Linked DNA regions of Homo sapiens: regions 1, 2, 4 and 5 are each linked to region 3. Evidence: fine-mapped expression QTL. A gene starts in region 3. Each other region holds a variant in brackets. All regions are shown on one strand. Distances are between the middles of the regions.

Region 1 (6,153 bases), 68 kb before region 3:
GTTAATACATCTTGAGCTAATTTTTTTTTTTTTTTTTTTGAGATGGAGTTTTGCTCTTGTTGCCCAGGCTGGAGTGCAATGGCGTGATCTCTGCTCACTGCAACGTCTGCCTCCCAGGTTCAAGCAATTCTCCTGCCTCAGACTCCCAAGTAGCTGGGATTACAGGCATACACCACCACGCCCAGCTAATTTTGTATTTTCAGTAGAGACGGGGTTTCTCCCTGTTGGTCAGGCTGGTCTCGAACTCCCGACCTCAGGTTATCTGCCCGCCTCAGCCTCCCAAAGTGCTGGGATTACAGGCGTGAGCCACGGCGCCCGACCAGTGGAGCTAATTTTTATATGTGGTAAAAGATAGGGGTCGAGTTTCATTCTATTTATGGCTATACAGCTATCCCAGCACAATTTATTGTACAGAGATTCTGTTCCTCGTTGCTTATTTTGGTTGACTTTGTTAAAGATCAGATGGCTGTAGGTGTGCAGCTTTATTTCCGGGTTCTCTATTCGGTTTCATTGGTCTATGTGCTTGTTTTTTGTTTGTTTGTTTGTTTCATTTTGTTTTTTTGAGAGAGGGTCTCACTCCCATTGCCTAGGCTGGAGTGCAGTGGTGTGATCACAGCTCACTGCAGGCTTGACTTCACAGTCTCAGGTGATTCTCCCACCTCAGCCTCCTGAGTAGCTGGGATCACAGGCGTGCACCACCACAGCCAGCTACTTTTTTGTATTTTTCATAGTGACGGGTTTCACCATGTTGCCCAGGCTGGAATCATGTGATCTCCCCACCTCAACCTCCCAAAGTGCTGGGATTACAGGCAGGAGCCACCGTGCCTGGCTATGTGTCTGTTTTTGTACCATACCATACAGTTTTAGCTACTGTAATCTTATAACATAGTTTGAAGTCAAGTAATGCCTCTGGTCTTGTTCTTTTTGCTTAGGATTGCTTTGGCTATTTGGACTCTTTTTTGGTTCCATAGAAATTTTGGCATAGTTTTTTCTAGTTCTGTGAAAAATGGCATTGGTAGCTTGATAAGAATAGTGTTGACTCCATAGATTGCTTTGGGCAGTATGGCCATTTTAACAATATTGATTCTTCTGAACCATGGGCATGGGATGTTTTTCCACTTGTTTGTGTCATCTATGATTTGTTTCATCAGTGTTTTGCAGCTCTCCTTATAGAGGTCTTTCATCTCCTTAGTTAGATGTATTCCTAGGTATTTTATTTTTTGTGGCTGTTGTAAATACAATTGCATTCTTGATTTGGCTCTCAGCTTGAACATTATTGGTGTACAGAAATGCTACCAATTTGTTTTCACTGATTTTGTATCCTGAAACTTTACTGAAGTCGTTTATCAGTTCCAGGAGCCTTTTAGTGGAGTCTTTATGGTTTTCTAGGTATAGAGTAATATTGTCAGTGAAGAGATAAATTGACTTCTTCTTTTCCTACTTGCCTGTCTTTTCTTTCTCTTGCTTGATTGCTCTAGCTAGGACTTCCAGGACCCTAAAAATTGCAACCAAAACTTCATGTGATCATTTTGCATACTTTGGGTTTAGAGCTAATAAACAAGAGCTTTCTTATGACAAACAATGCTGCAATGAATAATCTTGTATACAAATGTCACCTTCACACACACACATATATATATAAATACATCTAGAGGATAAATTCCCCAAAGAATTACTGGGGCAAATGATATAGGCATTTATTGTTGTTTTAAATAGCAAATATATATATACAGGGTCTTTTATAATCTGATCTTCTGTGTTTATACTCTCTGTGACTTCTAGATCTAAAATGTGCACAACTACATGGCTAAAATTCAATTGCGTCCTCCATGTATCATGTGTGTTAACTTTTCCAGGCTAAATGAGAATTGATTTATTATAAACTGTATTTCTGACTGAAGTACCTCCCATGCTATGTTTGCCTGAGGACAGAGCCTTCTAATTCTACCTGTCGTCTACCACTCTACCCCCACACTGTTTCTATCCGCTGTATTCCAGGTTCATCCTCCATACTGCTGTTTATAATCGCCTCAACTCCAACTTTAGTAATGCTCTACCTTTAGCAAAAATGATGGCTTATAATGAAAAGCAGGTCCACAGTGACTTCACTTTAGACCAGGAAGAATTCTGACCCCACAAAGGGAGCCAGCCTAAATGCCAGGGTGTCGTGGGTTACCCGGACCACTGCCAAGCAGAAGGAATATACTCATTTCTCAGAGAGAGATATTGAGAGGGCTCCTTCTCTCAGAGATCACCTCTACCTAAAGAAAATAAAATTATTTTTCATTGAACTGTACTTAGAAAAGGTAAGTATCCTTTGACTTAGATAAAATCCCTTTTAGAAATAACTTTAGCAAAACCTTCCAGTCTGCTCTTAGCCAGAAAACCCTATTAAGCAAAATACAATTGTCTCAACCCCACAAGTAGTGTTCCTGAAAGTTAGTACCAGCTTTGTTAAAGATAGAAGGCTGCATGCTTCTTGCATTTGGCAGGGTTCATGATTTGATTTTCACTGAAAACAATGTTTTGAAGTATTGGACAAGCAGAGAAATGAAAGAAACATCTGCCTCATTTCTTCTAGGAGAATATTTGCAATACACTTTGAGGCCAAATTTGACAATACATGTATTAAAAGACTTTAACAGAAAGCTAGACAGTGAAAACATTGGCCACCTAGTAATATATTTTTTAAATGATACTCAATGCTGGCAGGGTAGTATGAATTAGTTATATCTTGCTAGACAGAAATTTGGAATATGTATTGAGAGTCTTTTTGGCTGGGTGCAGTGGCTCATGCTTGTAATCCCAGCACTTTGGGAGGCCGGAGGCAGGCAGATCACTTGAGGCCAGGAGTTTGAGACCAGCCTGGCCAACATGGTGAAACCCCATCTCTACTAAAAATACAAAAATTAGCCAGCTGTGGTGGTGCATGCATGTAATCCCAGCTACTCCGGGAGGCTGAGGCACAAAAATTGCTTGGCCTTGGGAGGTGGAGGTTGCAGTAAGCTGAGATCGCGCCACTGCACTCCAGCCTGGGTGACAGAGGGAGACTCCATCTCAAAAAAAAAAAAGAGTCTTTTTAAAATGTGAAGGGGCTGAGGGTGAGTGGT[G/A]TGGTTATAGTAAGGCAACGCGATAGATCCTGTGGTATTGGAACTGTCAGCATCTTGACTATGGTGGGGGATACATAGACCTGTACGTTGCAAAGAAATTAATCACACATGCAAGTGAGTACAAGCAAAACTGGACAAATCAGAATGAGATTGGTGTATTATATCAATGTCAATATCCTGGCTGTGATATTGCACCATCGTTTGGCTAAATGTTCGCACTGGGAAAAACCCAGCAAAGTACAGAAGTGAACTCTGTGTAGTATTTCTTCTAACTGTAGTATTTCTTCATACAGTTATCTCAATAAAAGTTTCCGTGTAAAACTGTGAATCTGCCAAGATAAGTGAGGTGCAAAGTTACCCCTGGGTGAGAGAAAAAATTAATTTGTGTGCTACAAAATTTTAGGTGTAAGACAGTTACAATATGAGGACAGTTGCACAGCACAGGGCCAGGGTGGGGGTTGTAAATAGCCCACCTGAGTCTGTCCTTTGTTACTTAGGGAGGGGAAGACAGAAAGACGGGTGACTTTTTTGTCCCAATAAATCTATACCTAAAAGCCTATCCTTTGGAAATAGAGATGTCCACTGCAGTGTTATTTATAATAAGAAAAAACTGGAAACAACATGACAGCCCATCATTATGAAAATAATCAATACATGTGACATTTATACCATGGAACATCATGTAGCCATTTAAACAAAGATACAAGATAAGGGAGGGAATGACTGTGAGGACTTTAGAGTATCCAAAGTATTACACATAGTTACACAGAATAAGGAGGGACAAATGGAAGAAAACACATCAAAGTGAACTCTAGGAAGAAATGTAAGGCAATCTGGGAAAAGGTAAATGCAGAATATGATATGATATCAAGTAATGGTTGTAACTTTGGGGGGGATGTGATAATGTGCGGGGATTTTATTTAAGTCCTTACCCCTTATCCATTAGTGATACATAGTGAAATAAATACCGATGAAATGATAGACTGTCTGGATGGATTTGCTTTAAATATTCCAGAAGCATCCAGATATTATTTGCACAATTTTAAAAGCAAGTAAAATAAAACAAATGTCAACAGCAGTTATTTTCTGAACTATGCAATTGGGTAACTGGTCTTTTTATTTATACTTCACTGTTTTCTAAGGTTTTTTCCTTTTTTTTTTCGAGATAGAGTCTTTCTCTGTAGCCCAGGCTAGAGTTCAGTGGCACAATTTTGGCTCACTGCAAACTCCACCTCCCGGGTTCAAGCGATTCTCCTGCCTCGGCCTCCTGAGTAGGTGGGACTACAGGTGCCTGCCACCACGCCCAGATAATTTTTGTATTTTTAATAGAGATGGGGTTTCACCATGTTGGCCAGGCTGGTGACTCCTGACCTCACGTGATCTGACCTCAGGTGATCTGCCCACCTCAGCCTCCCAAAGTGCTGGGATTGCAAGTGTAACCCACTGTGCCTGCCCATTTTCTAAGTTTTCTATGATTAACAAGTATAAAAAAATGAGATGGAGGAGGAAAAAAGTAGGATATGTTTAGAGGTATCAGACCAGAGAAATAAGTTATTTATACACAGGCAATTGCAGCAGTGATTATATTAATCTGGAGACAGTCCCTTTTAAGGGACAATTTACCTTTAGACTTATCAGCTGAGTGGTTGCAGATGCCCTTAACCAGGGACGATAGAAACGATTGTTCACAGAGTGATCCACACAGCTGTTCTCCTGCCCAAATTGCCTGGGAAGGAGCTACTGGCTTCCTGTTGGGTTCTGTGGGTCTGAATTTTTGTATCTTAGGCTAGTCATTCTTAACTGAGGGAGCCCACCAGAATAACCAAGGGCAATTTTCTTTTTCAAACTATAATTACAAATACTGAATAGTTCCTCACAGGGTACAGAAACATTGTCTAAAAGTTCCCTAGGTGATTTGGATAGGCACACATGGCCAATAGTCCCTCATTTAAATAAACGTGTGTGCGTGTGTGTGTGTGTGTGTGTGTGTGTGTGTGTGTAAATATGCCTTAAATATTTGGGGAAGTATATGTAAGAAAGTGGTAAAGTGGGCCAGGCGCAGTGGCTCACGCCTGTAATCCCAGCACTTTGGGAGGCCGAGGCAGGCGGATCACCTGAGGTTGGAAGTTCGAGACCAGCCTGGCCAACATGGTAAAACCCAGTCTCTACTGAAAATACAAAGTTAGCCGGGTGTGGTGGCGCATGCCTGTAATCCCAGCTACTTGGGAGGCTGAGGCGGGAGAACCGCTTGAACCTGGGAGGCAGAGGTTGTGGTGAGCCAAGATCACGCCATTGCACTCCAGCCTGAGCAACAAGAGCAAAAACTGTGTCTCAAAACAAACAAACAAAAAAGTGGTAAAGTGGTGGCTTTGGGGAAAAGAACTGGGCAGCTGGGGATGGAAAGGGAGAGAGACTTTTCAAGGCATATCCTTTTGTGCTTTTCACATTATATGCAAGTGCATATATTACCTATTCAAATAACGTGAAAAGTGAAAGAAAAAAACAAATTTTAAAAGAGCCCCTGCTTGAAACACTCAGTTTGCCAGAATCTGCTTTTCTTTTGCTAAGGTGGTCAAAGTTCTGTAAGGAGGACACATTTTTCTTTTGCAGATGATTTTGCTAAAAAAAAAAAAAATTCAGAGAAAGCATCTAATGACTTTGAAAGAACACCAGAATAAACATAATGGATTTTACATTCTGATAGTTACACAAACTCCTCACCAGTTTAGAGTTACACCTTCTACCATTAGGAAGTACATAAAGTCAGCCTACATGCAGGAGACAAAGATTTTCATTCTGCCATGAAAGTAAAGAATTTCATTAAATATCTCTGATGATAGCAGCTGCCTGGCTTACTTGGGAGCAGAGGTGAAGGTAAATGTTTCCTTAATTATTTTGTGATGTTTGAATTTTGTGCTAACCACAGAATTACCAGTTTTTATTTATTTTTTTTAATTTGAGCATTTAAGACAGTGTGATTACATGGAACTACAAGGTGACCATCTCACACTCCTATAATCACTCCCAGCAGCACCTTTGAGTT
Region 2 (6,153 bases), 57 kb after region 3:
TATTAGTTGAACGTGCTGAATTCATTGACATGGCTGGTTCTTTGGAACTGGCTGATACCTAAAGAGCAAACTAGTGTTAGCACTGTATGTTTAAAGAAGAAAAATAAAATCCCAAGAGACTTATTTTTTCTTGAAATTTCTGTTAAGTTTGTATTGCCATCTCATCTTTAGAACTAAATACATTTGGTACAATCCAAATTAAGAATGATACGTATATTCCCAAATACCACATCCCCAAGAAAGACAGAGGTATCTTTCAAAACCATAGGTACTTAGAAGGTAAGTAGAAAAGACAACTCTCAGCCCAAGTGCTGCTTTCTTCTGTTTCCACACAGATCAGTCTTTCATGCCTCCAAGTCTGGGGAGAGTCATCTCATCATTTGGAAATATTTCTTTGTATACAAATGTATTTAAATAATATAAAACATCACTTGGAAGAGTTTACCTTAAAGGGATTTACTCGTCCTTGGCTGCTAAAGGTAACTGCACCTTTCACAAAAAAGAAACCCTTGCTTAATAATGGTAGAAAATAGATGACTTCTGACATCTATAATACTAGACAGAGTATTTTAATCCCCATTAAATGAAAACAAATGTATTTTGCAACTTTTCAAAACTATTAACAACAGATATCCTCTTTCCTACTTCTAAGCCAAAATAAAAGCTATTAAATGTGAACCACCCCAACGTGCCACTATGAAACATATTCAGTATGTACAGATCTTTTATCTTCTGTTACTGCGGAAGAGTGGCAGCTCGTCTGAGCTAAGGTTAGTAATCCCTTTACTTGTGTTCTGCATCCCATGCCCTCCTGCTTTGTCAGAAAACCTGACCTATCAAGTTTCTTGACATCCTACATCTTTGACTTTTCCCTATTTATTGGCCCCTAAAGTCTCCCAACTTAAAAAGAAACAAAAAACAAACCTTCTCTACCCCACATTCCTTCCAGTCACCATTTTCTCTCGCCTCCTCCATCCAGCCATTTTTTTTTTTTTTTGAGACAGAGTCTCGCTCTTGTTGCCCAAGCTGGAGGGCAATGGTGTGATCTCGGCTCACTGCAAAGTCCACCTCCCAGGTTCAGGCGATTCTACTGTCTCAGCCTCCCGAATTGCTGGGATTACAGGCGCCTGCTACCACGCCCGGCTAATTTTTGTATTTTTAATAGAGACAGGGTTTCACCATGTTGGCCAGGCTGGTCTTGAACTCCTGACCTCAGGTGATCCGTCTGCCTTGGCCTCCCACAGTGCTGGGATTACAAGCATGAGCCACCACGCCCGGTCATCCAGCCAAATTTTTCCAAGAACTGTTGACACTATTATCATTTCCTCACCACCCATACATTCCTCCATACAATATAGCACTTCCAGCTCTACCACCCTACAGAATCTCCTCTTGCTAAGGCCCTCAGTGATCTCTACATTGTCAAATCTGGTGGATACCTTTCAGTCACCTTGTTTGCTCTATCAATGGCATCCCACATAGCTGACTGTTCCTTACTTCTTGATACTTTGTCCTCTCTTGACTTCTGAGATACTGCATTCCCTGACTTAGTTCCTTCCTCTCTGGACCTGTGGACTCATTGTGTTCCAATAGTTGGTTCCTCCTCTTCCTCTACCTGATGCTCAAATGTTGGAGATTCCCTAGGCTTAAGCTCATTTTTCTTTTTGCTTTACATTCTCCCCCAATGCTTGCTTACCCATGCTCATGGTTTAAATTGCTATACTTATGCCAATGATTTTCACTTTGTATCTCTTGACCAGAATACTTCCCTGAGCTCCTGATTCAAATATCTGTCTTCACGACATTCTACTCACCTTACAGTAATTCATCATCTTCCTCTCTAAATCTGCTTTTCTCTAGTGTTTCCTGACTTAGGAAATGGCACCATCATTCACTCAAGTACTCAAGCCAGTGTTAACAAACTAATCTCTAATTAAGAGCTTTCCTGGCATGGTGGCTTAAGCCTGTAATCCCAGCACTTTGGGAGGCTGAGGAGGGAGGACTGCTTGAGCCCAGTTTAAGACTAGCATGGGTAACATAGGGAGACCCTGTCTCTACAAAAACAAAAAACAACAAAACAAAAAACCCAAACCAAAACAAAACTAGCCAGACATGGTGACACATGCCTGTGGTCCTAGTTACTTGGGAGGCTGAGGTGGAAAGATCGCTTGGGTCTGGGGGGTTGAGGCTGCAGTGAGCCATAATCACGCCACTGCACTCTAACCTGGATGACAGTCACACCCTGGCGGGGGGAAGAGGAGGGAGGGAGGGAGGGAAGAAGGAAGGGAGGGAGGGAGGCAGGCAGGCAGGCAGGCAGGCAGGCAGGAAATTTCTAGCTGAGCATGGCCACTTGTGCCTGTAATCCGAAAATTTTGGGAGGCTAAGGCAGGAGGGTCACTTAAGCCCAGGAGTTCCAGACCAGCTTCGGCAACAAAGCAAGCTCCTCTCTCTACAAAAAGTACACACAAAAAATTAACCAGGCATGGTGATGCACAACTGTAGTCATAGCTACTCAGTAGGGTGAGGCAGGAGGATCACCTGAGCATACGAGTTCAAGGCTGTAGCGAGCTAGGACTGCATCACTGCACTCCAACTCTGCTCCAGTCTGAGTGACAAAGCAAGATACCCTGTATCCGCACCCCCCCCACCAAACAAAAAAAACAAACAAAAAAACCTTTCCATCTAGCCAATAAAAATTGTTTTATTTATCTCGTTTCTGAAAATACTTTATAAAAGTTTCCCCTTTTGTCTCTCCTGGCAGAGTGCTAGCCCCTTGCGGTTTGGTGCCTCCCTGATTCATGAATCACTGAATGTTCAAATTAATCCTTCAAGATTCAAATGTGCTTAAGTTTTTCTTCTATTACAAGAAACTGAGAATCACTCTTTACGCCCTGAACTCCTACACTCTCTTCATCATCTTCAGAAATAGCTCTCCAACTCTGCCCATTCTTTCTAACATCACCATCACCACCCTAGCTCAGGCCCTTATTCAATCTCATTTGGACTGCCTCTGTAGTTTGTTTGTTTATTTATTTATTTGAGATGGAGTCTCGCTCTGTCGCCCAGGCTGGAGTGCGGTGGTATGATCTCACCTCACTGCAAGCTCTGCCTCCCGGGTTCACGCCATTCTCCTGCCTCAGCCTCCCAAGTAGCTGGGATTACAGGTGCCTGTCACCATGCCCGGCTAATTTTTATGTATTTTTAGTAGAGACGGGGTTTCACTGTGTTCTTCAGGATGCTCTCAATCTCCTGACCTCGTGATCCACCCTCCTCAGCCTCCCAAAGTGCTGGGATTACAGGTGTGAGCCACCACGCCCAGCTTGTAGTCTCTTTATTTTTTAATTTTTATTTACTTCTTCTT[A/C]TTATTATTTTAGATGAAGTCTCACTCTGTCACCTAGGCTGGAGTGCAGTGGCGTGATCTCCACTTACTGCAACTCCCCACTCCTGGATTCAAGCAATTCTCCTGCCTCAGCCTCCCGAGTAGCTGGGATTACAGGCATGAGCCACCATGCCCGGCTAATTTTTTTTTTTGTATTTTTAGTGGAGATGTGGTTTCACCATTTTGGCCAGGCTGGTCTTGAACTCCTGACCTCAAGTGCTCCACCTGCCTCGGCCTCCCAAAGTGCTGGAATTACAGGCGTGAGCCACCACGCCTGGCCTATTTATTTTTTGATACAGGGTCTTGCTCTGTCACCCAGGCTGGAGTGCAGTGGTGCAACCATAGCCTACTGCACCCTCGAACTCCTGGGCTCAAGATATCCTCCTGTCCCAGCCTCCCAAATACCTGGGACTACCGGTGTGTACTACCATGCCTGGCTAATATTTTTATTATTTACTTTTTGTAGAGATAGGGTTTCATTGTTTCCAAGGCTGGTCTCAAACGTCTGGTCTCAAGTGATCCTTCCACCTTGGCCTCTCAAAATGCTGAGGTTACAGACATGAGCCATCACACCTGGCCAGTAGTCTATTATCTGTTCTTCTTCAGCACAGTGTGCCATGCTATACCTCTGCTTAAAACCTACAACAGTCTCTCAGTGACCTTAGAATAAAGAGCAAAATCCTGACCGGGTGTGGTGGCTCACACCTGCAGGTCCAACAACTTTGGGATGTGGAGGTGAGGAAATTGCTTGAGTTTGAGACCAGCCTGGACAACAGAGTGACACCCCATCTCTATTAAAAAAAATAAAATAAAATAAAAAAAAGACCAAAATCCTTAATATGGCCTACACAGATCTGCATGACTTGGCTCCTGCCCATCACTCCGAAACCCTTCAGCACCACTTTCTCTTTGCTCTCTGAGCTTTTCACACCACCCTTTTGCAGCCTTCAGTTCACACATACTGTTCCTTAAGCCCAAATGCTTCTCTTCTGCTCCTGTTCCCATGCACCTTTGCCTTGCTGACTGTTATTCATCCTTCAGGTCTCTGCTGTAAACACTCCATGAGGCCTGCCTTGAAGTCCCTACCCATCCTCCACCACTGGCTAGATGACAGCTATGTGTCATACGCTCTTTTCATATTCTACATGTTTTTTAAGTTAATTTTTTTAAATCAAAGTAACATATGTCCACAGTTTAAAAAGTCAAATGGTACTATAAGGTTTATGCTCCCCACCAAAAAAGGGCCAGCAGTGCCTTACTTCAACCTTCTCTTATCCCCCAGGCCCACTCCCTGTACGCAACCATTTTCAACTCCTTTTTTTTTTTTTTGAGATGGAGTCTCACTCCATTGCCCAGGCTGGAGTGCAATGGCACGATCTCGGCTCACTGCTACCTCCACCTCCTGAGTTCAAGTGATTCTCCTGCTTCAGCCTCCCGAGTAGCTGGGATTACAGGCACATACCACCACCCTCAGCTAATTTTTGTATTTTTAGTAGAGATGGGGTTTCACCGTGTTGGCCAGGCTAGTCTAGAACTCCTGACCTCGTTATCCGCCCACTCCGGCCTCCCAAAGTGCTGGGATTACAGGCGTGAGCCACTGCGCCCAGCCTTCAATTCCTTTTAACTGTTTCTCCAGTATCCTGCATGCTTCCTCAGTGATACCCAGATCTGTCTTCAACATCTGTCTTCTCAGCTGGGCTAAAATAGCATTAAAACAGAGATCAACCACACATGTCTGTTTGACTTCTGTATCCACCATTAAGTAAAATGCCTGACACTCAATAGGCATTTTATAAACATCTGTTAAATGACCATAGCTTCACAAACAACATCTGAGATTAAAAAAACAAAAACATAAACACACACACACCAAAAGTGGCCTTAAGAGTTAAGGTGTATTTGCGTAGATGTGTCACTTTGCAGATGACTTGCAAAATTTCCTTGATATTACAAATTTATAAATATTTCTCACCTGACTTAGCTGAAACATCAGAGGAATTTGTACTTTTGGAAAACGAGTTCTGTCCTACAGATTAAAATAAAGCAATATAATGTAAATGGGGAAAATATAGTCATCCTCAATATACAACAACCAGATAGCAAAGAGGTCTGAAAAAAAGTATGAGTATTCAATTTCCCTCAGTTAAGCAAAATGGGAAAAGCCACATCCATGATAGTTCTCATGATTTATGGGCTTGAAAATGTATCTCACCAGGCTTATGTATTTCTGGTTTTTCTTCATCATCAGCTTCTCCACTGTCCTCAGCATCTTCTTCAACTTGATTTCTGAACCTTGGTTGGCTCCACTCTGTAGCAGTATTGCTGTAACTAAGAGAAAATAATATTATTCAATAAAGAGCTATGCAAAGACCAACTTAACATTCAAGACAGTAAAGGAAAATTCAAACAACTAAATTATTTCTTACCCAGCATTCAGCTTTTTTCTGAAATCTTCTTCTTCTTCTTCCTCTTCCACCTGGGTTGCTGTCAATTCGGCTGCCTTCTCTACAGCCAGTTCACTTAGTTTTTGAGCCAGTATTAATTTCCGAGAGCGAGAAGCATATTTAATGGCTAAATTCACAGCATTTTGAGTCATTAGATCAGCAAGTTCCACACAACGGAATTCTCGCTCCAGTTTACAAGAAAGCTAATCCAAAAAGGGGGGGGGGGGGGAGATCAAATAACATCAAGTAAAACTTTTTAAAGATACTGACACTACTAGTAAAACTGAGACAATAGTTTTCTAGCTACTCTATCTCCCTAATTCTAAGATG
Region 3 (6,153 bases):
GGTCTCGAACTCCTGACCTCAGGTGATCCGCCCGCCTCGGCCTCCCAAAGTGCTGGGATTACAGGTGTGAGCCACCGCGCCCGGCCCATGGACTTTTTAAATAGTAAAACTTGACCAGAACAGTTTTTTTGTTTTTTTTGTTTTTTCTGGAGACAGAGTCTCCCTCTGTCGTCCAGGCTGGAGTGCAGTGGTGCAATCTCGGCTCACTGCAACCTCCTCCTCCTGGGTTCAAGTGATTCTCCTGCCTCAGCCTCCCGAGTAGCTGGGACTACAGGCGCCCGCCATCACACCCGGCTAATTTTTTTGTATCTTTAGTAGAGACGGGGTTTCGCCATGTTGACCGGGCTGGTCTTGAACTCCTGACCTCAGGTGATCCGCCCACCTCGGCCTCCCAAAGTGCTGGGATTACAGGCGTGAGCACCGAGCTCGGCCAACCAGAACAGTTTTCTAATGTGGAATGATGTGTTCTTTGCAGTTATTAATCCTCTTTAAATGAATCTTCGCTCATGAGATATTTCAGCTAACCATTTCTCAAGTAAATCTGTGAGTCACTTTAGATAATTCTGTGACCTGTCTCAGGGTCAGAAATTCCTCTCTCTTTGGGTAATTAGATCCATGCTAGATTACAGAACACTGTCCTATGAATTCTCTTTAAGGGAGGATTCCCAAAGCCTGGCCGATGCTGTGAAGTAAACCACTTTCTGTGTCTGCAAGGGGCAAAATGAGTAAGGCCTTAAGAAGACATTTCATTACATTGTGAAATATCTCACACACACACACACACACACACACACACACACACACACACACAAATTTAAAGCCCTAGACCTCCAAAGAGCTGATCCCACAGAAAACTGAAAGTTTATTTTTCAGTCTTTGTATTTTGAAATCTCTTCTGAGATTCCAAACTTTTGCAATTGAGGGGTAAAAAAAAGTGAATTTGGAAACAGAACTAGAAGTCACTGCCGGTTTTAGAGTGTAGCATCATTTCCTTTTGGGGCCCCGTCTCTTTCACATTCTGATTTCCCACCCTTCCTTTGGGGTGTGGAAGACTGGGCAAAAAATAACTTTCTTTTTCCCAGGGTCTATTTGGTGGAATCGCTCTACACTCCTTCAGAGAAATAACTGGGGCAGGGAGATTGCCTTTCCAGCGCACTGTTTTTCTTTCAAAAAACAGTGAACGGTAGAATGCTTCTTAGGGCAAATAAATAAATGTCACCAAGACACACGGAAGGTGTAGACTGGAAAATAATGTCTTTGGTCCCAGCTGTAGAAGCCAGAAGCTTTATTTTTTTAAACACAGACCAATACTGCTTCTCTGGCCAACAGGCAGCAAAGTCCCCATTTTCCACTCTCCATCACCCCATCTTGCATCCTACCCACACTGATTGCATCCCCACCCTCTGGGTGAAAAGCCGACACGCCTCAGACGCTAACAGCACCGGGTCAACCCGGCTTTATTTTAGGGTGGGAGGGTGCGGGGATGAGACTGAGTCCTGGAACCCACGGAGCCCTCCGAATCCCGGAGTAGCTTTACTGCTTTTTGCGGGGTTGGGGGTGGGGGGAGGAAACAGATTTCAGCAGCAAACTCACCCAATCAACCTCACACCTCAAACTCCGGGGAAGCCCGTGCCCAAAATTGTGCCGAATTTTGTAAATGTCCTGAACTGGAGTAAACTTGAGGTGGACAAAAAAAAAAGCACAACTCTAAGACTCCGATCCCCTGGCAAATCAGTGGGAATGCAGGTCCCCGAGGTTTCGGGGAAGGATCGCGCCGAGGCTTCAATCCAGATACACACCCTGACAATGGGATCTCAATAAGGAACTACCCAGGAAGCCGTCGCCGCAGCAAGTGCCCAGGTGATCCTTATCGTGGGCAAGTTTGGAACCGCAGGTACCCCGAGAATCCCGCGCTGGGCGCTCAGGCGAGAGGGCTCCGGGCTCCCGTCCACGCCCACCCGGGGCGTTCTAGGAGGGCTGCGCGCTGGGAGCGGGAAGGGCCCCTGGAAGGCGGCTGCAGCGAGTTCCGGGGCTGAGAGGTCGCTGCCACCCAGGAAGCCCCGACTGTGCCCCACGCAGGGCCTCGGCAGGGCGGCAGGCTAGGGCGGGTTCGGAGGTGACAGCGCCCGGCTTCCTGCGCCAAAAGTGAGGCAACTCCGGAAACTTCCTGGAGCCGGCGCGCGTTTCCTGCAAGCACCGCCCCCGCCGCCCGCACGCTCTAGCAGCCCGCGGGCGCACTGACCTGAGATGGTCTCCTGGTAGCCCTTGGTGAAGAACTGCATGGCCGAGGCCGCCCTCCAGGGCGTCTTGAGCAGCCCTTGCCGCTGGGGGTTCTCGCCCAGCGAGCTCAGGATGGACGAGTAGGCGGCTGCCAGGTTAGGGAGGTTCAGCTCGTTATCCTCCTCGCTGCGGGGCCGCTCGCCCTTCCAGCCGTCCGCGGGCTGCGCGCTCTTGGCCTCGGGCCGCGGGGGCTTCTCCGCCGGCCTGCTGGGCCCGGGCCGCGGCGGATCCCGCTCGGGGAACCCATTGCTGCACCTGGCGCCCCGCGGCTTCTCCGCCGGTGCCCGCACAGGGCCCTTCTCCATGGACCCGCCGCAGCCGCTGCCGTTCGGGAAGGACCCCGGGGCGCTTCGAGGTCTGCGGCTAAACTCCGCCGGTGGCCGCGGACAATGGGCTGTGGCCGGAGTCACCTGAGGAAGGTACGCAACCTGCTTAGATCACACTCCGAGCCGGGAGCGGCCACAGGCTGGAAAGCCCGGCCGCGCCTCCTTTTTATGGCCCGGCGGCTCAGCCTGCGCCGCGGAGCGCTCCCATTGGCCGGCCCCGCCTCGCGTCACGGCCCTCGCCGCGCCCCTCGGCCTCCCGCCCCCGGGGTCCCCAGCAGGGGTCGCGGCTCCGGAGACGCCCGGAGGGGTTCGCAAGCGCAGGGAGGGAAGGAAAAGGGCGCCGGCCCCTAGGATCAGGCGGGACCCCTCCACTTATTGCGGAATGAGCCGAACCCGAAAAGAGGCAGTCGTCCAGGAGCTGGGATCTCAGTGAGAAAGACGCGGTCTGGGCGCCCAGTCGCCCCCTCTTCAGGCCAAGAGGGCGCTGCATTGAAGGGCTCCGGTCCCCTCGCCCTGTGAAAGATCAGCAAACAGGTGGCCTTGCCTGGAGAGAGACCGAGTTAAGCCACCGATTAGGAACCAACTCTTAAGCTTTCAAGGCAAGAGAATAATGTGACTTCAGACTCTTGGGTTTAGTTAAAAACGCACCTGCCACCTAGGGGCCAGGTGGCACCGCTGTCGGGGCAAGTGTCACATCAAGTGGCCCTTATGTGGGTCCCTATGTCTAGAAGGATAGGATTTATGGTTGCTAGAACTTTGATCCTGGAAAAATTGATTTGCAAACGAAGATAGGACTTTCACTTAAAATCCATTTCCGTCGGTGGCTCACGCCTGTACTCCCGGCGCTTGGGGAGACCGAGGCGGGAGGATCGCTTGAGGCCAAGAGTTCGAGACCAGCCTGGAAAACATAGCAAGACCTCATCTCTATAAAACCCATCGCATTTTCTAGAAACGCAGTTGTGCAGATTTGGTGCTCAATTGTTTTACAGTTCCATGCAAAGCGTCTTTCCCCAGATGTTGGTACAAATTGTGAAATGCTATTCACCAACTGAACTCTTAACCAGTGACATCTGCTGTAACTGTTTTCTTTGAGATTAATAAATGGACCTTTTTCCTCACTTGAGGGATTATCTCATAATGCCGAAGGTGAGCTTTAAAACATGTATCAAAATAATATTTTTTTTCTTTTTTTTTTTTTGAGGCTCACTTCATCCTCCGCCTCCTGGGTTCAAACGATTCTCCTGCCTCAGCCTCCTGAGTAGCTGGGATTACAGGCACCTGCCACCATGCCCGGCTAAATTTTTGTATTTTTAGGAGAGGTGGGGTTTTGCCATGTTGGCCAGGCTGGTCTCGAACTCCTGACCTCAGGTGATCCACCTGCCTCGGCCTCCCAAAGTGCTGGGATTACAGGTGTGAGCCACCATGCCTGGCCTAATGTAGATTTTCTGACATAGAAGCAGGTATTAATAGGCTTAGGATCAAACAAACCAATAGGGAAGCCTGTGGAATTATTCTATGCTAACAATGTAGCTTGGTCATTATAATAAGTAATTAGTATTTATGATACATCTGCTCTAGGCGCAGCCCCGTTGGAAACATTCAGGAAAGAAATATGGACATTGCCTAGCCTTGTAGGCACCTTTACTCCAAAATGGAAGAAATGTTCATATCAGTGGGGTTATTTATTTATTTATTTATTTATTTATTTATTTATTTTTAAATTTTAATCTATTTATTTAAGAGCGGGTTATGAGACTGGCTAATTTTTGTATTTTTGGTAGAGATAAGGTTTCACCATGTTGCCAAAGCTGGTCTCGAACTCCAGGGCTCAGGATTATAGGCCTGAGCCACCGTACCCGGCCCAGTGGGGTTTTTAAATAGAGAATATGAACATCCTTTGGAAAACCTCTTTGTCATTTTCCTCTTTATTAAAATTTTTAAATTTTTTATTGTAGGTTTTTATTGGGAGTGGGGCCCTGCAACATTTTTTTCCTCTAACTGTGCTGCCCACTGTCTGCTGATACCTCCTGGTCAGAATTATCTGCTGGGTCTCAAGCTATTTCAAGCATAGTTGAAGACAACATTCAAAGGATGACCTTGCATTTAACAAATGAAAACAAAGATACTAAGTGAGGTACTTTAAAAATGGAGAGAGTAGATAGAGATGCTTTCAGTACGAATTTATTTTTAGTGGCAATCTTTCGTCTTCCTTTAAAAACATGTGTAAAGATTAACTAATATTGTATTCCACAAAGACAGTTTCTAATGAAATTTTTACCCTAAAAATTAACATTTTCTTACACGTATTGCCACTGAGGCACCTGCACCTTTGTTGCAGGACAGGGCCTCTGGATACATGCTAACTTGTAAAATGGAGGCAGTGCCTTTCGGCCAAATGCCCAAAAATAATACAAGAAAACTTTGAAATCACCAACATTATATGAATAATTTAATAGTAAAATGTAGATAGTTGACAAGGATGGTTATAAGTAGCAACAGGAGAAAAAAAGAGGAATAAACCAAAAGGGAAGTAGGTCCCAGATAATTTATTAGCATAAAATGGTTCAACAGTAATATTATGAGCATTTACAGCCAGGAATTGTTACCGCATCCATGTTTTTCACCCAGTAAGGGATTCATTTTCAGCTTGGACCCAGTCTGGGAGTTTCTTTCTACCAAAAAGCCAAGGAATTTTTTAAAGTCTCTAATTTCTAGGACAGCAGCAGAACAAAGAGGCAGATGAGAAAGACACACCAAGTCAGAGACTGAACACTGCAGTGCTACAGAAATGTACAAAGAGTTGTTTGCCAAGTGTGATATGATGATACATGTATATGTAGGTTTTCAGCCATAGTACCTGGTTCATAACTCACAGTCTTTTGTTACAATGTTGGGGCACTTTAGGCCTCAGAAAATAGAATCAATCTCTCTCTCTCTCTCTCTCTCTCTCTCTCTCACCTTCTGCTCCCCTTCCACTCACTAAAGGCAGGACTCTAATCATCTCCCGCCTTTCTGATTACGGATCATAAACCCTCATTGCAAACAGGGTCCTGCCTCATACCCTGGAGGAAGCATGGCTGCACAGAGAGGTCAATCACACCTTGACACGGCTGTCCATGCTTCAATCATGCCTATACAACGAACATAAAAGGCCCAGACGGCAGGGCTCAGGGAGGTTTTGGACAGCTGAATATGTGGAGGTTCCTGGAGGGTGGTGTGCCCAGGGAGGGCATGGAAACTCCATACCTCTTACCCCATACCTCACCCTATGCATCTTTTCATCTGTATCTTTTGTAATATCCTTCATAATAAACTGGTAAACGTAAGTGTTTCCCTGAGTTCTTTGAGTCACTCTAGCAAATTAATTGAACCCAAAGAGGGGGTTGTGGAAACCCCAACTTGAAGCCAGTCAATCAAAAGTTCCAGAGGCCCAGACTTGTGAGTGGTGGAAAGGAGGGGCCAGTGTTGGGGACTGAGCCTTCAACTTGTGGGATCTACAGCTATCTCCAGGTAGGCAGAATCAGAATTGAATTAAATAAGAGGGAGG
Region 4 (6,153 bases), 41 kb after region 3:
GATAGTTTCTGATTTGTAGAAAAATCTAAAGGTTTCTGCTTTTTAGACAAATTCAGGTTCTCTTTTGCTTTTTCTTCCTGGTTTTCTGTTTCATCACTTTCATCAACCACACGTTTTCGCTTCTTTGCTTCAGTTCCTTCACTTGCCGTTTCTCCTTTGGCTTTGTTAGCCCACACCTTTGTAAAATGGCAGGAGTGAAAAGGAAAGATTTTTAGAAAATAACAAATAAGAAGTAAATGATTTATTTACTTTTCCAGGTAATATTTTTATATATAAAGCAGAATAATTAGCACTTGAATTAAGTGTTCTCATTGTTAACAAATCTTTTATTACTTAAATGCAGAGCACATTAAAGATTTACACTACTTTTATATCTCAATCTAAGCTTTGCTTATATTAATCATATTAGTTGCAAAATACTATAATTGCAGTACTATTTAAAAATGAAACTTTTGGCCAGGCACGGTGGCTCATGTCTGTAATCCCAGCACTTTGGGAGGCCGAGGTGGGTGGATCACGGGGTCAGGAGACTGAGACCATCCTGGCTAACACAGTGAAACCCCGTCTCTACTAAAAATACAAAAAAATTAGCCGGGCATGGTAGCGGGCGCCTGTAGTCCCAGCTACTTGGGAGGCTGAGGCAGGAGACTAGAGTGAACCCGGGAGGTGGAGCCTGCAGTGAGCTGAGATCACGCCACTGCACTCCAGCCTGGGCGAGAGCAAGACTCCGTCTCAAAAAATAAATAAATAAATAAATAAATAAATAATAAAAATGAAACTTTTTATTCTAAGATAATTGCAGTTTCACATGCAGTTGTATGAAATAATACAGAAAGATCCTGTGTAGCCTTCACCCAGTTTTCCCCAGTGGTAACATTTTGCAAAACTATAGCCCAACAATCACAACTATAGGGAACTGACATTGAAACAATCCCATTTTACTTCTACTCATTTGAGCGTATGTATGTATTTACTTTTATTGTGGGTTGGTTTGTTTACCACCACAGTCAAAATACAGAACCTCTTCCCCAAGCCCCAACTCCGACTCCAACCCCTGGCAACCACTACTCTATTCTCCATCTTGATCATGTTGTCATTTCAGGAATGTTATATAAATGAGTATATATTCTTTGGGGTTTGGTTTTTATTCACTCAGCAAGAGCCAGACAAGGTCCATTCATTTCATCTGTCTCTAAAATCTCTTTTAATCTATAATAGTTCCCCACTCCTACTTTATTTCCCTGGCCATTTCAAGGGCTCTTCAAGCTGTAGAATTTCTCACATTAACAAACTGGATTTAAGTAAATGTTTAGGGTTTACCTTAAAAATACTGATTACATTTTTAAGTATTCAAAAACACAATCACAGACTTTGCCAAGTCTCTTCCTCTTTTGCAGTGTAAAGTCTTATTTATTTAGACGCCATTTTATTGAACAACAAATGAGAAACATAAAATTGTAAATGAGGTTCTAAATGACGCTAAAGGTGTTTAAACCAGTTTCTGGCTTCCTCATTATGCAACACCTTTTTCATAAAACCCAATTTACCAAAGCAAGTATCTACGTTACTAGGTGCCTGTGCTGCGCCCTGCCATTCCTGGGGAAGTGAAACCTGAGGATTTAACTGGTACACCACACACATTCCTTCCACTTCTAACTGAGAGATTGTGCCTTCCTTCCTTCACATGGCAGAAGTTTATCAGAAGCAAGCCAGCCACCTGTCCTAATTTCCATGTGAAAGGCTGGAACAGAACACCAGTCTTTTTCCCAAAAGGAATAGTCTCATGTAGTATTTAATGTGTAAGTAGATACAATTTTTAAAAATTCTGCTTGCAAGAACCCTAAAGTAGTATTCAAAAAATGTGAATTCATTTTTACTTATTAATTTTTTTCCCCCTAGAGACCCGGTCTCACTCTGTCACCCATGCTGGAGTACAGTGACACAATCACGGCTCACTGCAGCCTTGACCTCCTGGGCTCAAGTAAGTGATCTTCCCACCTCAACCTCCTGAGTAACTGGGACTACAGGTGTGTGCCACCATGCCAGGCTAATTTTTAAATTTTTGTAGAGATGGTGTATCACTATGTTGTCTAGGCTGGTCTCAAACTCCTGGGCTCAAGAGATCCTCCTGCCTTGGCCTCCCAAAGTGCTAGGATTACAGGCTTGAGCCAACGAACTCAGCTTGACACTTTTGATTTTTAACAAATGCATCTTTTCTTGGGGTATTCTCCTAACTTAAAACATACAGGAACTTATAGAGATTAAAACAGTAAACCGTCAAAAAATTAACCATCCAGCCTGGGCAACACAGTGAGAGGTTGTCTCTATAAAAAAAAAAAAGAGGACAATTGCTTGTGCCCAGGAGGTCGAGGTGGCAGTGAGCCATGATCACACCACGACACTCCTGCCTGGGTGAAAGAACAAGACCTGCCTCAAACAAAAACAAAACAAAAAACCCATCACCATTACATAATAATTACTACATATCCATATTACCATATATCCGCACTTACTTTCCTCTTTAAAAAGTTTGGTGGATGTATTCAATTTCCAAAAACAGAAAAAGGCTTTTCCTTTTTTTTTTAGTTGTCATGATCGTTATTATCTTTGTTGTTGTTATTATTATTATTAGAGACGATGTCTCACTATGTTGCCCAGGCTGGTCACGAACTCCTGAGCTCAAGTGATCCGCCTCGACCTCCCAATGTGCTAGGATTACAGGCATAAGACACCATACCCAGCCAAAAGGCATTTCTATAAGAATTTTTTAAATCTGGGAATTCACTAAGATCTCAATCTCGGCACAATTATCCTTACCTTTCTTTCTTCAGTTGACAATACTCTAAATCGAATCATTCCTTCTTTTATTATGTCTGCTTCATCTGAAAAGTCAGGATTGTCAGACAAAATATTACTTCTATTTTCTTCTAACCACATCTGGAACCCGGTCTTTGGCCTAAAATCACAATTATGTGAAAACATTTTATACTTAAGACAGAGTTTAAAGTGCCTCATGATTTTAAGTTAGTAATCAACCATAAGTCTCTGACATCTATTATATAAAGTAAGGAAGACACAGTTACACTTGTTAATTCATGTTACTTTTTTTTTTTTTTTTTTTTTGAGACAGAGTCTCACTCTGTCACCCAGCCTGGAGTGCAATGGCGCGATCTCAGCTCACTGCAACCTCCGCCTCCTGGGTTCAAGCGATTCTCCTGCCTCAGCCTCCCAAGTAGCTGGGATTACAGGCATGCGCCACCACACCTGGCTAATTTTTTGCATGGGGTTTCACCATGTTGGTCAGGCTGGTCTCAAACTCCTGACCTCACGTGATCTGCCCGCCTCGGCTTCCCAAACTGCTGGGATTACAGGCATAAGCCACCGTGCCTGGCCTCATATTACTTTAAACTGCCTGGAGACTGCAGGATCAATGAACTGGAAAATCCTTTGTAAGGTCAATTCAAAAGGATCACTCACGTTTGTATTTTCCAAGTGCAGCAACCATGAACTC[T/C]GTACTTTCAACTTTTTAATGAATGTTGACAGGCTCAAGGTCTCCAACCTCACTTAGCCCTTGTGGCCTACCACATGTCCTTGGTAGGCTCTTTTTCTATTTCCCCAAACCAGCTATTTGAATTCCTCACGACTTTTCTCAAGCCCCTTTGCCATCGCCTCACCCTTGCTCTCAGAGCTGACCTGCATCAGCATTAGGTGAAGCACGGACACAGCACATTTGTACATTTCATTAGATTCCACTCACAATACAAATTGTCTTTAAGTCACACAAGTGAAGGTTTAATGCAAATATTTAACATTTACTGATCACTTACTATCTACCAGGCACTACTCTAAAAGCTTTATGTATAGTACCTCATTTAAATGACAATAACACTATGAGATGGATACAGTTATTATCTCCATTCCATAAGTGAGAAAAGGGAGGCTCAGAGATGTGAAATAACCTATCCCAGGTTACACAAACAGTAAAACTCAGACCTGGGATCCAACAACCAGGCAATTTGACTCCAAAGTCTATGTTTTTTTGTAGAGATGGAGTCTAGCTCTTTCCCCTATGCTGGAGTACAGTGGCTCTGTATTGGCTTACTGCAACCTCCACCTTCCAGGTTCAAGTGATTCTCCTGCCTCAGCCTCCCAAACAGCTGGGACTACAGGTACGCGCCACCACACCCAGCTAATTTTTGTATTTTTAGTAAAGACAGGGTTTCACCATATTGGCCAGGTGGGTCTCGAACTCCTGACCTCATGATCCACTCGCCTCGGCCTCCCAAAGTGCTGGGATTACAGGCGTGAGCCACTGTGCCTGGCCCAGAGTCTCTTATGTTTAACCCAGCAGCTATACGCCCCTCACTAGGCTGAACCTAAATGAATCCTAAATAAAAAGTCTAAACTTTTTAAGGTTAAAAAAATTTTTATTAAAAAATTACTAGTATGACCATAACCATTTGCCCAATTTCTGAAAATATGCAAATTTTAAGTAATCTTAACGTAAACCGATTTCCAGAAAAATAACAGAACAAATCAAAACAAGTAAAAATCAAGGTATAACAAAGGTTCCTGAATTTCCAAAAATTAATGAAGACCCATTTTAATGAAACTTGGGGCAATGTCACAAGTCTACTTAGTGGCCTGCAATCATCTACTTCTAAACAGCTATTTTTAAAAAGAAAACCAAAATTGAACATTTCTTTCTTTGTTTTTTAAAGAGACGTGAGTCTCACTATGTTGCCTAGGCTGGCCTCAAACTTCTGGGCTTAAGCAACCCTTCTGACTCAACCTTCTGAGTGGCTAGGACTACAAGAGTGCACAGCCACCTGGCTAAAACTGGACATTTCTGATTAAGTATATCAACATCTGTGACAAAATATTAGTTTCAATAGTGGTAATTCCTTAAAATTTCAAAAGTAAGTTTTTTGTATAACCAACTGATAGTATGAAAAATTAAATTATCAATCTTCTTTGTTGTTGTTTTAAGAGAAAGGGTCTTGCTTTGTCGCCCAGGCTGGAGTGCAGTGGTATAATCAGCTCACTGCCACCTCAAATTCCTGGGCTCAAGCAATCCTCCTGCCTCAGACTCTCAAGCAGTTGGGACTACAGGCATGTGCCACCACACACACCTGGCTGATTTTAAAACTTTTGGTAGAGATGGGGTCTCCCTACATTGCCCAGGCTGGTTCCAATCTCCTGGGCTGAAGCTAACTGATCATGTTGGCCTTCCAAAGTGTTAGGCTTGGCCAGGTGTGGTGGCTCACACCTGTAACCCCAGCACTTTGGGAAGCCGAGATGGGCAAATCGCTTGAGGCCAAGAGTTTGAGACCAGCCTGGCCAACGTGGCAAACTCCATCTCTACCAAAAAATAACAAAATTAGTGGGCATGGTGGCACACACCTGTAATCCCAGCTACTCAGGAGGCTGAGGCATGAGAATTGCTTGAACCCAGAAGGTGGAGGTTGCAGTGAGCTGAGATTGCACCAGTGGACTCCAGCCTTGGTGACAGGGCAAGACTGTCTCAAAAAAAGTGTTAGGCGGGCCAGGCATGGTGGCTCACACCTGTAATCCCTGCACTTTGGGAGGCCAAGGCGGGTGGATCACCTGAGGTCAGGAGTTCAAGACCAGCCTGACCAACATGGAGAAACCTCATCTCTACTAAAAATACAAAATTAGTCGGGCATGGTTGCGCATGCCTGTAATCACAGCTACTCAGGAGGCTGAGACAGGAGAATCACTTGAACCCAGAGGCAGAGGTTGCAGTGAGCCGAGATTGTGCCATTGCATTGCAGTCTGGGCAACAAGAGCAAAAAGAAAAAAGTGTTAAGCGGAAAAAAAACCATGAGCCACTATGCCCGGCCTATCAATTTTCTTAAATAAAATTTTCACTGTTTAAGACCTAAATTAAATTCAGAACAAAACAGGAAATGTGAAAACCACAGCCACTCCCTCAAACTGGTTAACATAAAGTCATTAAGAAAATAAGATATACTTTATTATTATTTTTCTCCCTGGACTGTTCAGCATGAGAAAAATGAGATATATTATGGTAAAAATGAAATTGTGACTGTTCTTTTCTTTTTGTTTTTTCTGAGATGGAGTCTCACTCTGTTGCCCAGGCTGGAGTGCAGTGGCACAATCTTGGCTCAT
Region 5 (6,153 bases), 47 kb before region 3:
CTGGCCTTATGGGGTCGTTTGAAACTAAATTATTCCATTTGATTTTTTGAAGGCCACACAGGTAGTACTAATTCTGATCCCAAACTTTATGAATGTGTCTATGAGTTCCTTTTTCTTTTTCCTGCTCTTCCTAGAATAATGCTAATAGGTAAGTATCGTCCTTGATTTGGGATGGGAAAAGGGAGGACAGAATCCAGACTGTGGCTTTAGTGCTAATTCCAGTGGATTCTCACTAGAATTGCCTCATGCTTTCCCGAAAGTGTAAAATGTACATATGCATTATATCTTGATACGCTGTGCCAAGAGGGGCATTATTAATCTAGTTCACCACACCCAGCATCAGTAGTTGTCAGTTTTAATCTAAACCATTCTTACATTCTTGGACTAAACATCCCTGGGTCATGTTGAAAACAGTACTTCTATACTAGCCTGACATTTTAAGATTCTTACAACTACATTAATCAGTGAGATTTGCCTATCATTTTTTTTTTTTAATGCTAGGCTTATCAGGCTTTGTTATCAAGAATAGGCAGCTTCATCAAATTAATTGACACTTCACAGGTTTCTCTACGCTCTTGAATTATTTATACACATGCAAAATTTGTGGTTACTTGAAAGCTTGAAAGAACACTTATAAAACTGACTGGGTCCAGGCACTTTCCCCCAAATCATTAATTTGACCTTTTCTAATGGTTATTAATGTATGCAGGCTTTCAAACTCTTGGTCCATTCCTTTCTCTCCCCATCTTTTTAAAAAACGTATTCATCAAGATGTAAAGATTTATAAAGCATATTTTTAGTTACATATCGTCTCATTCCTAGATATCAGACTCCCCAGCAACCTATGATACAAGATTTTCAACTTGTAGATTTGTGATTTCTGTTCTTTGGCTTTTTCTAAATTATTCTAAATAAGGAGTTTGGACTTTAACTGAAAAGCTGTGGTGAGCCACCAAAGGAGCAGCATGATCCAATCCACACTTTAGAAAGAACATCCCAGCAGCTCATGAGGGCAAACTGAAGGATCCTCAGAGATGAGAGGCAGGGAGGAGGCAGGAGCTTAACATTCCCTCCAGGAGGAAGATAAGAAAGGCCCAGCAAAGACCTGCAGCAGGGAGGGCAGGAAGGCAGGAAGTGGGGGTGCTGCACCTGCCGGGCAGTGAGCACACGCAGCAGTGGATGGGTTCTGCCTCACTCCTCACCCCAAAATACACTCCAGATGGAGCAAAGATTTAAATATAATAATGTGGCCATACAAGTACCAAAAAAAAAAGAAGTTTGTGAACTACAGAAAAGTTTTAAACTTCTTTATGGAAATATAATACTATAAAGCAAAATCAAAAGACAAATGACGAGCTGGGAAGCATTGTCTGTAGCACCTGACCTGACTGCTTTAACATTCAGAGCTTGTGCAAACCAAGAATAAAAAGACAAATAACTCAGTGGAAAAATTAATACTGGAGCTAAGAACAGGAAGTGTCTGAATAGATTCAACCTCGCTCTATTAAGGAAATGCAAATTAAAATAGATACTATTTTTTACTTATCAGTTTGGCAAAGATTTAAAAGTGTGATGAAAAGTGTGTTGGCCGAAGTGTGGAGAAACATACACCACCCCTTACCTATGTATCTATTTATTAGAGTATAAACTGGCATGGTCTCTTTGGAGAGCAATTTCATAATATCAAAAATTCGGCTACCCTTTACCCATCAAGTTCCATACTAGTAATTTAAACTTCAGATAGATTCAAAGCACACAAAGATAATAAAATTTGTTCACCAGGGTACTTTTTTACTTTTTGGCAAGTCTCAAACTGCAAACTGTACTTATCTATAGCAAATACTGGTTAAATGAATTGTATTAATCAAAGAAATATTAGGTAGCTATGAAAAGAAACTTGGACTTTTTGGACTAAAAGATGTCCAAAGAACTTCAAGGTATTTTAAATTTTTAAAAAGCTGGCCAGGGCCAGGCGCGGTGGCTCACTCCCGTAATCCCAGCACTTTGGGAGGCTGGGGTGAGCAGATCACCTGAGGTTAGGAGTTCAAGACCAGTCTTGCCAACATGTTGAAACCCCATCTCTACTAAAAATACAAAAATTAGCTATGCGTGGTGGTACACGCCTGTAATCCCAGCTACTCAGGAGGCTGAGGCAGGAGAATCGCTTGAACCCAGGAGGTGGAGGCTGCAGTGAGCCCAGATAGTGCCACTGCACTCCAGCCTGGGCGACAGAGAAAGACCCTGTCTCAAAAAAAAAAAAAAAAAAAAAAAAGCTGGCCGGGTGCAGTGACTCATGCCTGTAATCCCAGCATTTGGGAGGCCAAGGCAGGCTGATCACTTGAGGCCAGGAGTTCGAGGCCAGCTTGGCCAACATGGAGAAACCCTGTCTTTACTGAAAATACAAAAATTAGCCAGGCATGGTGGTGCACATCAGTAATCCCAGCTACTGGGGAGGCTGAGGCAGGAGAATCACTTGAACCCAGGAGGCAGAGGTTGCAGTGAGCCAAAATCGCACCACTGCACTCCAGCCTGGCCGACAAAGCAAGACTCCATCTCAAAAAAACACCAAATAAAATAAAATTTTAAAAAGCAAGTTGTAGTACAGAATATAAGATATGATCTTATGTTTGTGCTTGCATAAATATTTTCCAGAAGGATAGTGAAAGAAATCTCTAGTTCTAACTCTGGGGAATGAAAATAGGTAAGAAAAGTTTTCACTTTATTCACTCATTTGTATTTAAATGGTATGTTGCTTTTATAGTCAAAAAA[G/GA]AAAAAAAAATACTGCTCCCTCTGTAATCTAATACTCACCTCACTTACTCTTACTTCCATCAGTCAATCTGGTTCCCATCCACTGGAATAGGCCTTGCTCCTACCCTCTGACTGGTCTTTGCTCATGCATTAACTATACCTAGAGAAACTTCTCCCCCATTTAGAATTCTGCTCATCCCTCCACCTCCAGGTCTATTCACCTGCCAGGCCACAGCCATCATGGCTCCTCTGAACTTGGAGCTACAGCAGGCATTTCCATGGCACTTGCAGTCTTGCCCTGTGCACTCTCCTTGAGGGTGGCTGCCATGTCCTGCTTCTTTAGCCTCCACAGTAGCTGGCACAGTGCCCACCCAACAGGTCAGCCATGGCTACCTGAGATACTACAACTCTAAATTCAAGATTTCGTACATTCACTCAATTATTTATTTATTTATTTATTTTTAGTGACACAGAGTCTTGCTCTGTCACGAGACTGGAGTGCAGTGGTGAAATCTCGGCTCACTGCAACCTCCGCCTCCCAGGTTCAAGCGATTCTTCCATCTCAGCCTCCGAAGTAGCTGGGATTACAGGCGCATGCTACCATGCCCTGCTAATTTTGGTATTTTTAGTAGAGATGGGGTTTCACCATGTTGGCCAGGCTGGTCTGGAACTCCTGACCTCAAGTGATCTGCCCACCTCGGCCTCCCAAAGTGCTGAGATTACAGGCATGAGCCACCTCACCCAGCCGAGGCTCAGTTATTTCTAAGGGAAGAAAATGAATACATGTTCAATGGCTTTTCAGCAACAAAAGAAAGTTCTATTCAAACTAAGTTTATTCTAGAATTCTACTAGAGTTGAGCCAGATCAACTCACTTCTGGCATTTTCTTGTTACTTAAGGCTTTACTGCTTGATATTTGACTTCACTGGCACTGAAAGGTCATTCATTTAAAGGCAAGCATATAACAAACTTCATATATAAGATTAAAATGAGCAGTGAAGTTTTGCTAAGACATTCAGCTTTTATTCCTCTTCATTCTCTAAATATTCTTACTTCTTATAAGGAATAAGTAGTTGGATAAAATCTTAGTCTTCTTTTCTATTTAATAGACTCTTTATTCAAATTTTTTGCAAAATATTTGAAAGCAACATACACTTGGTTCTTTGGCTTCATGTTCCATTTTATTCTTAAATTTTAATCCTATTAGTCTAAGGACAAATCCCCATGCTAATAATCAACTCCTTTGTATTGTTTCATAAAAGCTTAATTATTTGAGATCTTTTCCTTTCACTTGGAAAGGAAATAACTAAGATTATTTCCTTCTACCACCAGGTTGCCATTTATTGTATGATCTCACTGAATCACTCAAGAGTCCATTTCCCATAAAGTGTTAATCATGATCAACAGTTGGTTTTTCAGAGAAGGCTGTTACATTAAGACCAAGGCCTAATGTGATCTGCCAAGCTTTTTTACACTATGAAACTATCCATTACACCTTTCACATATGGACAGTCTGTTATAGGCATCAGCAGTGCTGGAATTTCTATATGGGCAAGGTATAGGGTTAGCAATCTTGCTGACAGGGAGGCCCAGGGGACTGGGCCTACAGCTATGTTTGCACAGTAAGCATGCTGATTTTACTTAGACTGTATATTATAAAACCATAAGAATAACCAATTTTAGTAAAGATACTTTTACTCACAGTTGACATGAAATTGGTTTAATACATCATTAGTTGAGGGTAAGTTACTGGGAAGGGAGTCGTTAATAAAAATTATAGTAAGATTAATTACTCCCAATCACTACCAACACACTTTTTCTCAGCAACTTTTCAGCACTGCCACCAGGGATGGATCACACGCAAGCAGCCAGAATGTTTCTGGATTTGTGCTAAGAGCCTTATTCCAGTGAAGCAATTACAGCTATGATATAATATTCTTTCATGGTGCCAAGCAGCCCTATCTAATAGCAAAATAGCTGAGCAGGAATGAGGTCAGAAACTGGGGAAGTTAAATTTGTCTCTTCTACCCACTTTCTTATTGATCCCCAGAGGAAATGAATGAGAAAGTGGAAGTGAAAACAAAGTAACAGGAACAACTTTAGAGGGCAGTTGTCAGATTGCTGGAGTAGTTTTTTTTTTACAGATTCCAACACAGAATTGAGAAATATCAGGACCACCATTTCACAACTGTGTTAAATCCCAGGGCCTGCATAAAGAAACAGGAACACATCAGAGCCACAGCACAGTCAACTGGTCACAGAGACTCATTTATTCCTCTTCTTTTATTTTTATTTTTTTGAGATAGGGTCTTACTCCATCGCCCAGGCTGGAGTGCAATGGCACAATCTCGGCTCACTGCAAGCTCTGCCTCCCGGGTTCAAGTAATTCTCCTGCCTCAGCCTCCTGATTAGCTGGGATTACAGGTGTGCGCCACCACGCCCAGCTAATCTTTGTATTTTTAGTAGAGATGGGGTTTCACCATGTTGGTGAGGCTGGTCTCAAACTCCTGACCTCAAGTGATCCGCCCGCCTCAGCCTCCCAAAGTGCTGGGATTACAAGTGTGAAAGACGGCACCCGGCCGAGACTCATTTATTTCAATTATGATATGGTCACTATAACCTCAAGTTATTCAAACTTAGCTTGATTATTTTTGAAAAAAAAAAAGAGTAGGAACACTTTACCCGACCCCTTCATCTTGTTCTTAACTTTCTCTCTCTCTCCACACACACACACACCTCCCAGTATTTCCTCCATCACTCAAAATTCACTAACTTTATACGAAGAAACAACAAGGATATTTAAGGGCAATAAAATATTGGTGGCTGGGGCCTACCAGAGATATCTGAACACAAACCCCCATGTTGACTTCCAGTTAAACACAGATGAACGTGTATGTACATCACCTCTCCTAAAACCCAAATAAAAAAGGCAGTAAGGGAATTTTTTAAGGCATGAACCCACAGGATAAACAACAGAAAAGAAGATTGTAGCAGGAAAGAGAAATGAGAGCGAGGAGCGTGAACACTGTATCAGAATAAAGCTGTGCAAAGCCAAGGCAGGCAGTCTTGTGTTTGCAGAAACAAAGAACCTAGACATGAACGGACTGGCCTGCAGGACCCCTGAGATATGCCTGGAGGCATCCAGTGCAGAGCAAGGCAGGGTTGAGGCTGGGGATCCCACAGGGAAGTTTCATTACAAGTCTGAAAGCAGTGTTGTATGAAAGCAAAGAAGGTGAGCACTCCCCTTGACAAGGATAGAAGAGTCCTCAGGCCTGACAACAAGTTCGACAGCAGAGCACTGCAGCTAGACCCCTGCCCAGCTTCTTCCCCAACCCCTCACTGTTAGCTAAACCCCCCTTAAAGGATGGGGCTGGACTGAAGGTAAGCTCAGGACCTCTCCAGTCAG

Which allele goes with the higher level. Positions count from the first base shown, and alleles are read on the strand shown. Sizes are in standard deviations (SD) of each study's normalised expression. Not every link is listed here.
For the expression in left ventricle of the gene that starts at base 2,748 in region 3, C is the low allele of the variant in region 4 and T is the other (small effect, 0.31 SD a copy in GTEx).

Evidence for each region.
Region 1: its variant is fine-mapped to the expression of GCH1 in whole blood (TOPMed, PIP above 0.99).
Region 2: its variant is fine-mapped to the expression of GCH1 in whole blood (TOPMed, PIP above 0.99).
Region 4: its variant is fine-mapped to the expression of GCH1 in left ventricle (GTEx, PIP 0.93).
Region 5: its variant is fine-mapped to the expression of GCH1 in whole blood (INTERVAL, PIP above 0.99).

The regions. Positions count from the first base shown.
Region 1 is chr14:54,831,666-54,837,818 of GRCh38, forward strand. No RefSeq gene overlaps it. Among named protein-coding and RNA genes, the nearest start is that of MIR4308, 43 kb to the right of the region's middle. The variant G/A (reference allele first, on the strand shown) is at 3,111.
Region 2 is chr14:54,957,147-54,963,299 of GRCh38, forward strand. It overlaps WDHD1 (WD repeat and HMG-box DNA binding protein 1), which reads right to left. Exons shown (of 26, transcript NM_007086.4): 19 at 5,806-6,026; 20 at 5,592-5,707; 21 at 5,352-5,405; 22 at 446-489; 23 at 1-58. Among named protein-coding and RNA genes, the nearest start is that of GCH1, 57 kb to the left of the region's middle. The variant A/C (reference allele first, on the strand shown) is at 3,362.
Region 3 is chr14:54,900,079-54,906,231 of GRCh38, forward strand. It overlaps GCH1 (GTP cyclohydrolase 1), which reads right to left and starts at 2,748. Exons shown (of 6, transcript NM_000161.3): 1 at 2,243-2,748. The coding sequence starts at 2,585. RefSeq lists silencers at 1,933-1,992, 2,003-2,052, 2,463-3,102.
Region 4 is chr14:54,941,515-54,947,667 of GRCh38, forward strand. It overlaps WDHD1 (WD repeat and HMG-box DNA binding protein 1), which reads right to left. Exons shown (of 26, transcript NM_007086.4): 25 at 2,818-2,956; 26 at 1-176. Among named protein-coding and RNA genes, the nearest start is that of GCH1, 42 kb to the left of the region's middle. RefSeq lists an enhancer at 3,357-3,651. The variant T/C (reference allele first, on the strand shown) is at 3,512.
Region 5 is chr14:54,853,258-54,859,410 of GRCh38, forward strand. All of the region lies in intron 3 of GCH1 (GTP cyclohydrolase 1), which reads right to left. It also overlaps the pseudogene RNU6ATAC9P. Among named protein-coding and RNA genes, the nearest start is that of MIR4308, 22 kb to the right of the region's middle. The variant G/GA (reference allele first, on the strand shown) is at 2,770.